2 separate regions of the Homo sapiens genome follow, and region 1 is linked to region 2. Evidence: fine-mapped expression QTL. A gene starts in region 2. The other region holds a variant in brackets. All regions are shown on one strand. Distances are between the middles of the regions.

Region 1 (5,387 bases), 29 kb after region 2:
ATCACGTCCTTCAGGCCTTGCACAGCATCCATTTAGCAGTGAAGTCTTCTCTGACCAAACTATTTAGATTGTGGCCCCTTGGCACATCCTTTTCCTCTGCTTTATTATTCTCCATTGCCTTATTGCTGTCTGCATATATTCTTATTAATTATTTGCTTATGTCTATTCCTCATTAGAACATGAACTCCAATAAGGCAATTTTTTTTTCTGTTTCCTTCTCTGATATGCTTGGCATATAGCAGATTTTCAACAGGTATTAATTGAACAGATCTTACTGTGCCAACATGGGTCTGTCTTTAAATGCCACATACATGGCTAAAGCACCTCAAAAGATCACTCCTGGAGAGACTGTAATTTATTCAAGAAAACAAAGATTGACAGGGTGTAGGTTAGAGTCTGAAATCTGCAGCACTGCTCAGCAACGGTCAATTGAAAGGGAGCCAAAATGTCTGCAGAAATACATTAATAAAGACTTTAAATGTTAATATTGTTTTCTGAGTAAGAGCATAAACAAAGATTAAGACTTTAAAGTAATTTTAGTGAAACAAGAACCAAGCAATTCAGTAAAGATTACATGAGGCAAGAGAATCAAGAGGCACAATAGTGAACCAGAAAAAGCAAGGCCGTGTGCTTAGCCACCTAAGTTACATGTTACCTGGGTTCTCTGATAGGAAAGGAATAGATAGTGATAGAAGAAGCCATTGCACATCTATTTTGGTTTATATAGCACAAGGCTGAAGTGTACATTGTTGTTCCCATTTCCGAGAACATAATAAGCAGCTTTCATCAAATTGTATTGGTATCGTCACAAAATCCCAAGCCCCTTTGAATGAGACATTGAGATTATCTGGAAAAATGCACAATATTACTGATGAGGCAAGATCCTACTGCTCAAATTTCACTGACTTAAATAGGACATCATCTTGTCAGAATTCAGCCCCTGCGAGTCCAGGTAAGCCCTACAACACACTAACCATACTCTCTGTCAGTACTATTATCTGTAACATTATTACAATGTACAGCAACCAGTCTTCCACTTGTTCTATAGGGGAGGCAAAACTTTACTTCTACTCTTGTAGGGTCCTGACTGGGCCTGAGAATTAAATTGACATAAGCTAGAGCAACATGAGAAAAGCATACAATTTAATATGAGCATTATGTGATAAAACGTATTAGTCTGTTCTTGCATTGTTATAAAGAACCACCTGACACTACGTAATTTATAAAAAGAAAAAAAAAGAGGTTTAATTGGCTCACAGTTCTGCATGCTGTACAGGAAGCATGCCTGAGGAAGCCTCAGAAAACTTACAGTCATGGTGGAAGGTACAGAGGAAGGAGGCACATTTTACATGGCCCGAGCAGAAGGAAGAGAGAGAGAAGGGGAAAGTGCTACACACTTTTATAGACAACCAGATCTTGTGAGAACTCATTCAATATTACAAGAATAGCAAGGGGGATTTCTATGATCCAATCACCTCTCACCAGGCCCCTCTTCCAACACTGGGGATTACAATCTGATATGAGATTTAGGTGGGGACACAGTCCCAAGCCATATCACATGGAAAGACTCATAAGGAAATAAAGATTCAAAGAAGTGGCAAAACCTAAAGGTTTTATATTAGTTTGGACAAAGAGAGACAATTGTTTAAAAGTAATTGTATTATCTGGGGACACTAAAGGAAGAAAAAAATTACTTTAACACTATCTTTACAGATTCTCTCATAGATGACTCCCCAGGAAAGAATGTTTCTTTTCTTCTGGTACAGGGAGAGCATCTTTCACTTGAGAGTTTTTATCTCCAGGTTTCAGGAAGAAAGGAGGGATTAGAATGCCCTTTTTGCATTTGATCTTTTTCAGGTGCCTTTAGGTCAAAGTAATCCTTATATCAAATTTGCGTATTTTGAGGAACATATTCTGCTACCCTTCAGTTTCAAATGCAGAGCATGGCTGTGCCAACAAGGGAATCCCTGAAGTTTCTTTTGCCACCTAAAAAGAAAGAGAACATACTCAAACTGCTTTCCATGTTTCCTGCCACAAACAGAGCTTTGGATACTGAGATTTAATGGGCTGTGAGGAGGGGGGTGTGTGTGCCTTCTTGAAGAGGCTGAAGTTTAGATTAACCATTAACATAGTAAGCAGATGTTCATTGACAGGAGAGATGAGTGGGAGCTG[TTTA/T]TTATTATTATTATTATTATTATTATTATTATACTTTGAGTTCTAGGGTACATGTGCACAACATGCAGGTTTGTTGCATATGTATACATGTGCCATGTTGGTGTGCTGCACCCATTAACTCATCATTCACATTAGATATATCTCCTAATGCTATCCCTCCCCCCTCCCCCGACCCCACGCTGATCCTTCTCAGATGGTGTTCTCAGCTCACTAGTACGTTTTTATCGAATACCAATAAATTAACCTTCTTGTTTCGGTTGTTCTAAAGTATGTCCACACAGTTCTCCCTATTTATGCCTTTATTTTCATCCTTCGCTGGAGTTGGGCTGACATAATCCCGTTAAATCAAGATATCAGAACAGATGGATTCTATCTGTGTTAGACTGGTTTTCCTTCTTCTTCTTTGCATTTGTCATGTCCAATTATTTTTGTACCCACCTAACAGCAATATTATAACAACTAGCATTTATATCACTATATACAATGGGCACAATAGCATTTCATAAGCTGCTTTTGGTTTAAAATTTGCAATAACTTTGTGAGGTAGGTCACTAGCCGCATTTTGCAGATAATTAAAATAAGAGGTAGGTAATTTTCTTAAATTATAAATTTCAAATGGCAAGAAAAACATTTAAACTTGTATTTTAGGACCCCAAATCAATGATTTTATATTAATTGAAAATATACCTTTTTGATTTGTTAAATGTCTGTAGAACAGAAGCAAAAAAACTATATTTTTTACGTTGCATTTACTTCTTCTCTAGTCAAAAGTAACAGAGATAAAGCTAAATAAAGATGATTATTGGTATTATGCATATTAAACTCATTTTTTAAGCCCATTAAAAGGAAGGCAAAAGGACCAGTTGTTTAGTATATTATGGTTTGTGTTTACTCTGTCAATATAATCATGAAATACAAATAAATATTTATTGAGCATGAGAAAGGAAGCATCAGTTTGCTAATCCCCTCCCCCTACAATGAAACTATTTTGAACAAAGATACTTGAAAATAAGTCACATTTTGAAAGGACACATAAAGTACACATTCCTAATCAAACAAAACTTTACACTGATTTTCTTTTTCCTTCAAAGGGACTGAAGTTGTAAGGATGTGAAAGTAGAATTAATTTTGTTTCGTCGAGTTATTGACTCCTAGGTCGATAGCGTTTTAATATCCATCATATTCAGACTATCTAAACTGGATACCTAAATTTCCTCTGGGAATTTCTTCTTTTCTTTTGTTTTCTTTTTTTAGAATTTAGTAAAGGAAATCTTTTAGATTCATTTATCTGAAACAAACACACTGTTGGACTTTAAATAACTGAAGAAGAAGCATATTTCAAACAAATCTTTCAGCAATATGATTTCCAAATCTAAAATTTGCTCTGGTTTATAGCTTAGACTTACAGTCAGCTAAGATACTCAGGTTTTTTAGCCTTAATCTAAATTTAAATAAAGGTTACATTAATTTCCATCTTGCAATTCTTCCTTTTCTTCATATTGGTCTTTTCAAAATGTCACTTAATTTTGAACCTCATTATTTTTCCACTATTTTTCCTAATAACTACAGTTTCTCATCAATAGAGGGTTTCCAGATTTTCTAAAATTTCTTCATAACACTAATGTCGAATAAACTCAGTACAAAAAATTGTTATAGTAATAGCCTTTAAAATATGGGTCTTACATGAAGAAAAATACATCTAGTGTGAATAAACTTTTAAAATTATTTTTATCCACAAAATCTGTAAGAATACCAGGTACCTATTTTGGCAAATACAAGTTTGATTCACACTTAACTCCTCCACTCTGGTTTAAATGTCACTTTTAACTTGTTCAACATTGCTCAACTAACATGAATAAAACATCTTATATTATATAATAATTCCTGTTTTGTCAGGTAACCTTAAATGTTCTCTTAAGCTTTTTACTTGCCCGATAATATCAGTTCAGAATTGATGTCAACATTGTAAATGATTATTTTAGCTATTCTTATACATAACTTTTCTATCATCTATAGTAACATAATTTAAGTGGTTACTAAAGTACATCTTTTTATTAAAGGCTTATAAAAAACACAAAGAGAGCTGTAATAATAACAATCACAATATGGCTTTAATTTTAAGAGCGATTTAATATCCATTATGTCATTTGACATTCTCAATAATCCAGTAGTTAAAGGGCCAGTTATTATCCCTCTTTTATACAGAAGAAAACCGGGACTCGTAAAGTTTAAGTGACAAGTCCAAGGTCATTTTGCTAATATGTGGAAATGCAGTCATGAAGGTCAGTGCTTTTTCTATTCCACAAAAAAGCAACACTGCTTTGATACAACTTTGAACGTTGATGAAGGAAAAAATATTTTCTTATTGCTATATATAAGAAGCAAAATGCAGCATTTTTACTGTAGCTCTGAAACAGAGTTAATTGGCTTTGTGCATTTCGATGGTGCTTATAGCGTATATCTTATTTATGAAGGAAAAAAACACATTTCGTTCCTAACAGTTCTGAAAATAAATACAAATTGTATTGAAAGCAAATACATAAAAGAAGTAATGGCATGTTAGGGGCTTTTGTTGTTGTTTTTAAATGAAATTTTATAAGATAAAAATTATCCAGATGGTTTTGTTCCATGAAAAGTATCTTGAAATGCTGTCCATTATAAATCCTTTATCCTTATTGCAGCTTTTTTTTTTAAGATACACACATATCAGAGAAGACAGCATAGACAAAGACTGATTTCTTAAAATTAAACCGATTAACAATTACTTTGTTAGGTTAATATAATGTGTTGCAATTTATTCATTAAGTGGCTTATAAAGCTCAAGTGTTCAATTTTTGGCACTCCACTTTAATATTAGCTATGCCACCTTAGTAATCATTTACCCAAAGACCATTTCCAACACACATCTGAAGAAGGTCATGATAATTCTAGTAAAACACCCACCAGCATTGCCAGGCTAACCATCCATCTGATCCTTTAGAGCCAAGTAAAAAAATATTAAATCCAAAAGTTCTGTATCAAAACATATTATTAGTCTGCCAGAATTTTGGTAACTTGAAATAAATTAGGGGAAAGAACACACATTCATACTAAACTTAAACCATTTACAACTCTTGAAATAAAAGTTTTTTTATTTTTCCCTAAACTTTCTGACAATTTAGATATTTATGCTCTCCTAAATTTCTATAAAAGTCTAAGAATATTTCCTTGAT
Region 2 (5,387 bases):
AGTTGCAACTACCTCTGTACAGGACAGAGAGCTGGTGGCCAAAAAGGTGACAATTTAATCACCCATCCTGCTTTGCCATTTTTATCTGTTATTATATAGAGACAGGGATCAAATGCATGTGCAAGCTTTACTAGAAACAGCTTTCATTCAGGCTATTTTCCTTAGCACTATGACATAATTACAACAGAGGCAGAATGTATGTCAGGTTAGTTTTAATGTTACTTACAAATATTTGCTTTCAGAAATTCAAAAAGAATGCACAAATCTGTCATGTCTTCTCTACTGTGTAAAATATGTCCTATACTAATATATGTAATAACATGTTTGAACCACTGTTAAATTTGCCCTACTTAGGTACAATCTTCCCCTTTATTTTTCAATAATTAAGTTTTTTTTTTTCCAAATATCAGATAGCCTCTCGGACATGTGAGGTCAGAAATGAGTAGAGGTTATGTGCTATAATCCAAATCTGATCAGCCAAGGGCTTCATTTTAAATCACTTAAATTCATTTTTAAACCAATAATAGAAATGTTAGCTAAGAGCAGTAATATGTCTAAGAAAACTCATTTGGATAAGAAATTAAATAATAATCAAGAAACAATGACACATCTTTCTCAAATGATTCCATATATGATAACTTCATGTCAACCAATTCATTAACTGTTCTATTGTCCTGTCTCATTACCCTAAAAACTTATGGCCCAAGATATTTAGAGCTTTCAACACTGAGTAATCAAAACAACTCTAAAACATCTCTACTTTTTTGTAATAATTGTAACTTAGCTTACTCTTATAATTTCTAAAACCAATCCCCCATGAATACAGATGCTTTTATATACTCACTTAAGTAAATAAGGAGGTAAAAATATACTCATTCTACCATTATCAACAATTAAATACAAGGAAGCCCTTAGGTATAATTAATAATAAGCTGCTTTATTGAAAGAAATTCTCTGAGATAAGTACTTTTACTTTTCAATCTGGTTTTTAACTTATAAGGGGTTTTTATTAAAAAGTATGTATTATACTGAGAAAGAAATTAACAGTTAAAGATAAAAGGGATAAACTTTTTCTAATCACTATTAGACTCTAGTCAGTATAAGTACTACCATGTCAAAAAACTTAGGATTTGTTAAAAATCAGGTCTGTTTTGTCTAAGTTGCAACTCCTACTGTATCTACTGTATATGTAACAATGCAAGAAGAATTAGATTCAGAATCCATTTGGCAGTGATAAAGAAAAAAATGCTGAAATGTTATTGATTCTCTCCCTCTTGTGCAAAACAAACTGAGTCAACTATATTTTTCCTGACATAACACAAAGGTTTTATTTAGATATTACAAAATATTGGCAAATGTTAGACTACATGTTTTTTATATATATGTATAATGAACTTATTAACCCTTTTGTAGAAAGAAGAGTGTCCTACTTCTGTAAAAAGAAATGCTACAGCTACTGACATGGTGATGTTAGCCCCAAGAGGAATACTGCCTGCAAAAGTTTTTGATGCAGAGATATTCAGCCTTAGGAGACACCTTAAACCTGTCACTGGCTGCTGAGCCCTGTCAGAGTTTATAACCCGCTGTGTCAAAGTCACAGTCTCAGCCCTGCCCTCTCCAAAGTATTTTTCACATTCTCTCTCCAAATTAAGTTCATTCTAATTCTCCAACTATTCTAGTTCCAGGATTTTCCTCCAATTATTATCTCCTTACAGGCATGAAGAAATCGCAACAGAATTTTCATCTGGTCTTTCAAACCATCCTTATTAACTTTCCCTTTTCCGCCCCCCCCCCCTTTTTTTTTCTAGAGCTTTTCAGAACTAAAGATAAAACAACCAACCAACTGAAGTCAGAGTAGGGTGGGAGTTAGCATGGATTAGGGCTGAGGTTGAAGGTGGCAGGAGAAGTGAGCCAGTAGGGTTAGATTTTTCAAGCTTTTTCTAGATAACCACCCTTAAATCTTAGAACCAACCAATGTTTAACAAAGCAGGCTTCCAATAGCCCTTGAACAATAAACGTTTAAAAATCAGTTTTCCAGTAAGGCTGCCCATACTGATCCCATATCGAAGTCTTCTAAGGGCTCTTCCAAAAAAAAAAAAAAAAGAAAAAAATGCTTAGCGAACCACTTCTCAAATAGGAGCTACTGAAGTTATATAAGTCAAGTTATTCCCAGGTAAAATGAATAAACTGTCCACAGCATTGGACATTGGGCATTGAAAAGCATCAGCATATGCTTCACTTTAGAGAAAAGAAAGACAGAAGCACAGTTTACTTACTAAAGCAGCCGCTCCAGTCCTCCTTGGAAACCCTGAGGAGTCTTCTCTTTTCTTTCCTACCAGTCAAATAAAGAATTGTCTTTCTATTCCACACAGGCCCAGAATAAACTGCAAAAAGGGATGGCACATGCACAGCAGCCCGTCAGGGTTTGGCTTTGGTGGGGTGCTTCGATTTCTGATTGTTTCAAAAGTGGGATCTTCTTTTCCGGAGGGAGGGGGCAAAGGAAGAAAAAGAAAGCGCGCTCGGAAAGCCGGCTTGGGTCCTGCTAATTATTCTGAAGGCAAAGTACCTGCACTCTCCCCGCCGAGGCTGGCTGGCGGCGCCGCGCCGGAGGGGAGGAGGCTCGGGAGGAGGAGGAGAAAGAGCAGCGGGAGGACTCGGGCTGGGAGGGGAGCGCAGGGTTGGGGAGGCCGATGAGCGGCTCCCGGCTCCTCGGAGAAGCAGCCGAGACGGCAAGGAGGAGGCGAGGCTCTGTCGGGGCGAGGCGCTGCCCCCACGCGCTCCGGCCGCCGGCTGCGGGCGCGGCTGGGCGGGGAGCCGAGGCGGCCGCTCCCGCACTCGCTCGCTCGCTCGCTGGCGCTCCCTCCTCGTCTCGCTCGCACTCACAGGCACACACCCCACGTCTCCAGCAGCTGCCGCTCGGCCTCACGCACTCACCTGCATTTCCTTAACGAGCCACTTGATGGCTGCCAGCGGCGTGGGCCCCGCTCCGGCGGGCGGGGGCCGGGGCGGGGAGAACGCGGCGCGGGATGCTCCGAGCGCCCGCTGGGGAGAGAAGCGGCGGCGGCGGCGGCGCTGCGGGCGCGCCAGATGGGGCGGGAGGAGGGGAGACCCGGCACCCACCGGCCCAGAGCTGCCTGACGCGGCCTGGGCGGACCCCGCCGCCCGGGTGCCTAGGCACGATTCCAGGGATCCAGGGTAAAGCGGTTCGCGCGGGAACAGGAGGATATGTCAGGCACAGGCTATTCCCCATCACTATAGCCACAGAGGACTGGTCCAGATGCGGATCCCGATCTGTGCTTCTTCAGGTGTTCGCGTGCTTTCGGTTATTATTATTATTATTATTTTCCGAGGGAGGCTGTCGGTAACACCTAAGGGGTAGTGGGTGTTAATAGCTGGGGGACGTACATTTGATTTGCAATGGAATCGATGCTTATGAAGAGCAGACTTAGGGAGGTGAAGGGCAGGGGCACAGGGGTTGCTTGGCGGAGGGGGTGTACTTCGGCTGAGCTGGATGGAGTTTTCAGTCGGGGCGCTTGGCAGTCTGGCTGGGCTTGAGGGAGGGATAGAGCTCTGCCAAGGTGGTAGCTGAGAAGGGAAAACCTGTACAAGAGTTGCTGAGAATATGCCTCGCTGCAGAGGAGAGGACATGGATGCAGGGAGCGGATTCTTCCCCACCTCCTCCTTACCCCAAGGTAGAGTGGGGTATCGGAGTGCATCAGATGTGGTGTACCACAGACTCGGGAGACAGGGGAGGAGGAACTTAGACCCCCAGCGAAACTAGAAATAAGGTTTGGAGCTGGGGGGAGAAGAAGGGGCAGGATGAGAGAAAAACAGCAGGAAGCTTTTTGTCATTTTACTATCTTTCATGTCTCATCAGAGCATACAGCTATAGGCAACAAATGCTCTGTCTCTTGATAAACAGAGAGCAATGTCACCATGTCGGTGCGTTTTCTAAAAAGCCAAAATAATTATCCTGTTTGTAATATGCAACACAGAGCATTCCAGGTACCATCTGGTCAAAGGTTCTGTAAGCACTGTAGAAGAAAACAAATAAAAAAAGAACAACGAAAAACCAGTTATCCATCTACTTTCCTTATATGTCAATGATCTAATCGCAGAAATGTCACTTTCTCCCGAAGAGAAATAAAGCTTAGTCACTATAGGTGGAATTTTCCCCAGGGTCCCTTCACCTTTTTCTTTTCATACCTTCTCCACTGCTTGCTGTGTCCCTTTGCTCTTTAAAAGGGACCCTTCTCCTGAACCCACGCGCTGCCGGGTTCCCTGCTCAGCCTCCCTAAAGCCACGGAGCCTACCCATCCAAGAAGGTTCCCATGCACAAACAGTCATCATCACTTAAAAAGGTTCTTGGAAATGACAAGATATGAACGAAAAAAAATTACACCATATGTGCAAGTGTGTGTGCATGTGTACATATTTTTGTAATTATACAAAGCACTTGCCCCTCTTACGGTGCTGTCTCCCCAAGATGATGATGACTGACTCATATTCTCTCTCTCTCCCTCCCTCCTTCTCCCTTTCTGCACAAATACACACCACTCACTCCTGTCTCAGTTCCTTCCTGTCAGTGTTCAATAATGGTTTTACATGAACTTTCTGTTAGGCAGCCTCTGACTACCAAGGGCGAGTTGGAGTGGATTGGTAGGAGGGAGGCTGGTCTCAATGATGCCGCTCTGTTTCCTGCCATCCCTCAGTCATTACATACACTACTGTACTTAATGCCAAGTAGAAGCAGAAATGATTTCCTCTCTTGCTAGTCACAATAATATATTTGTCCTCCCTCAGAAACACAAGTAATTAATAATAAAAGAAATAATGCATCTTGAAACCATGGGAAGAGCAGATGGAGGCTGATGTGGTTGTGTTAGTCACCTTTTCTGTTGTTGTTGTTGCAAAGACAACGTGACCACCTCTCCCTTTCTACTGCTTCTGGTGGGTTAAGCAAAGCATTTGGCCCTTTTACTGTATTCTCTTTTCCATCTTTCCCTTGACAATAGTTTGTGTGTTTTAAGTAAAGATTTCATTCTGCCAACCCGCAGGAAGCTTTTAACAAGATGCAGCTGAGCGTGTCGATATCTTATATCTTTTTACTGCTGCATGGGGGTGTTCAGCAACTTGAAACTCTTCTCTACTTCAGCTCCAGGCTGGGATCTCACAGAGACAGTGCTCCCTGGGGCTGATTTACTCTTGCTCCTGTACAACTATCCTTTGGTGTCCTCTGGAAAACAAAGAATATTTTAAACAATGGAAGAATCAGTGTTATACTCAATCCCCTTCCTCCTACCTCCTCCCCACATAATAATATCACAAATGTTCAATGGATTAGCTTATTGTAGAGATTTTATTATTAATTACATCTGAGAATTGGA

Alleles and levels. Positions count from the first base shown, and alleles are read on the strand shown. Sizes are in standard deviations (SD) of each study's normalised expression.
In carriers of allele T in region 1, the expression in prefrontal cortex of the gene that starts at base 3,085 in region 2 tends to be higher than with TTTA alone (moderate effect, 0.62 SD a copy in ROSMAP).

What was found. PIP is the estimated chance that this variant, and not a neighbour inherited with it, causes the effect. A credible set is the group of variants that fine-mapping cannot tell apart.
Region 1: its variant is the best candidate, but not a certain one, in a credible set for the expression of PTPRD-DT in prefrontal cortex (ROSMAP, PIP 0.85).

The regions. Positions count from the first base shown.
Region 1 is chr9:10,638,706-10,644,092 of GRCh38, forward strand. No RefSeq gene overlaps it. Among named protein-coding and RNA genes, the nearest start is that of PTPRD-DT, 28 kb to the left of the region's middle. The variant TTTA/T (reference allele first, on the strand shown) is at 2,173.
Region 2 is chr9:10,610,122-10,615,508 of GRCh38, forward strand. PTPRD-DT (PTPRD divergent transcript) reads left to right here and starts at 3,085. Exons shown (of 3, transcript NR_110696.1): 1 at 3,085-3,305. It overlaps PTPRD (protein tyrosine phosphatase receptor type D), which reads right to left and starts at 2,881. Exons shown (of 46, transcript NM_002839.4): 1 at 2,567-2,881; 2 at 2,277-2,384. RefSeq lists a silencer at 2,826-3,035.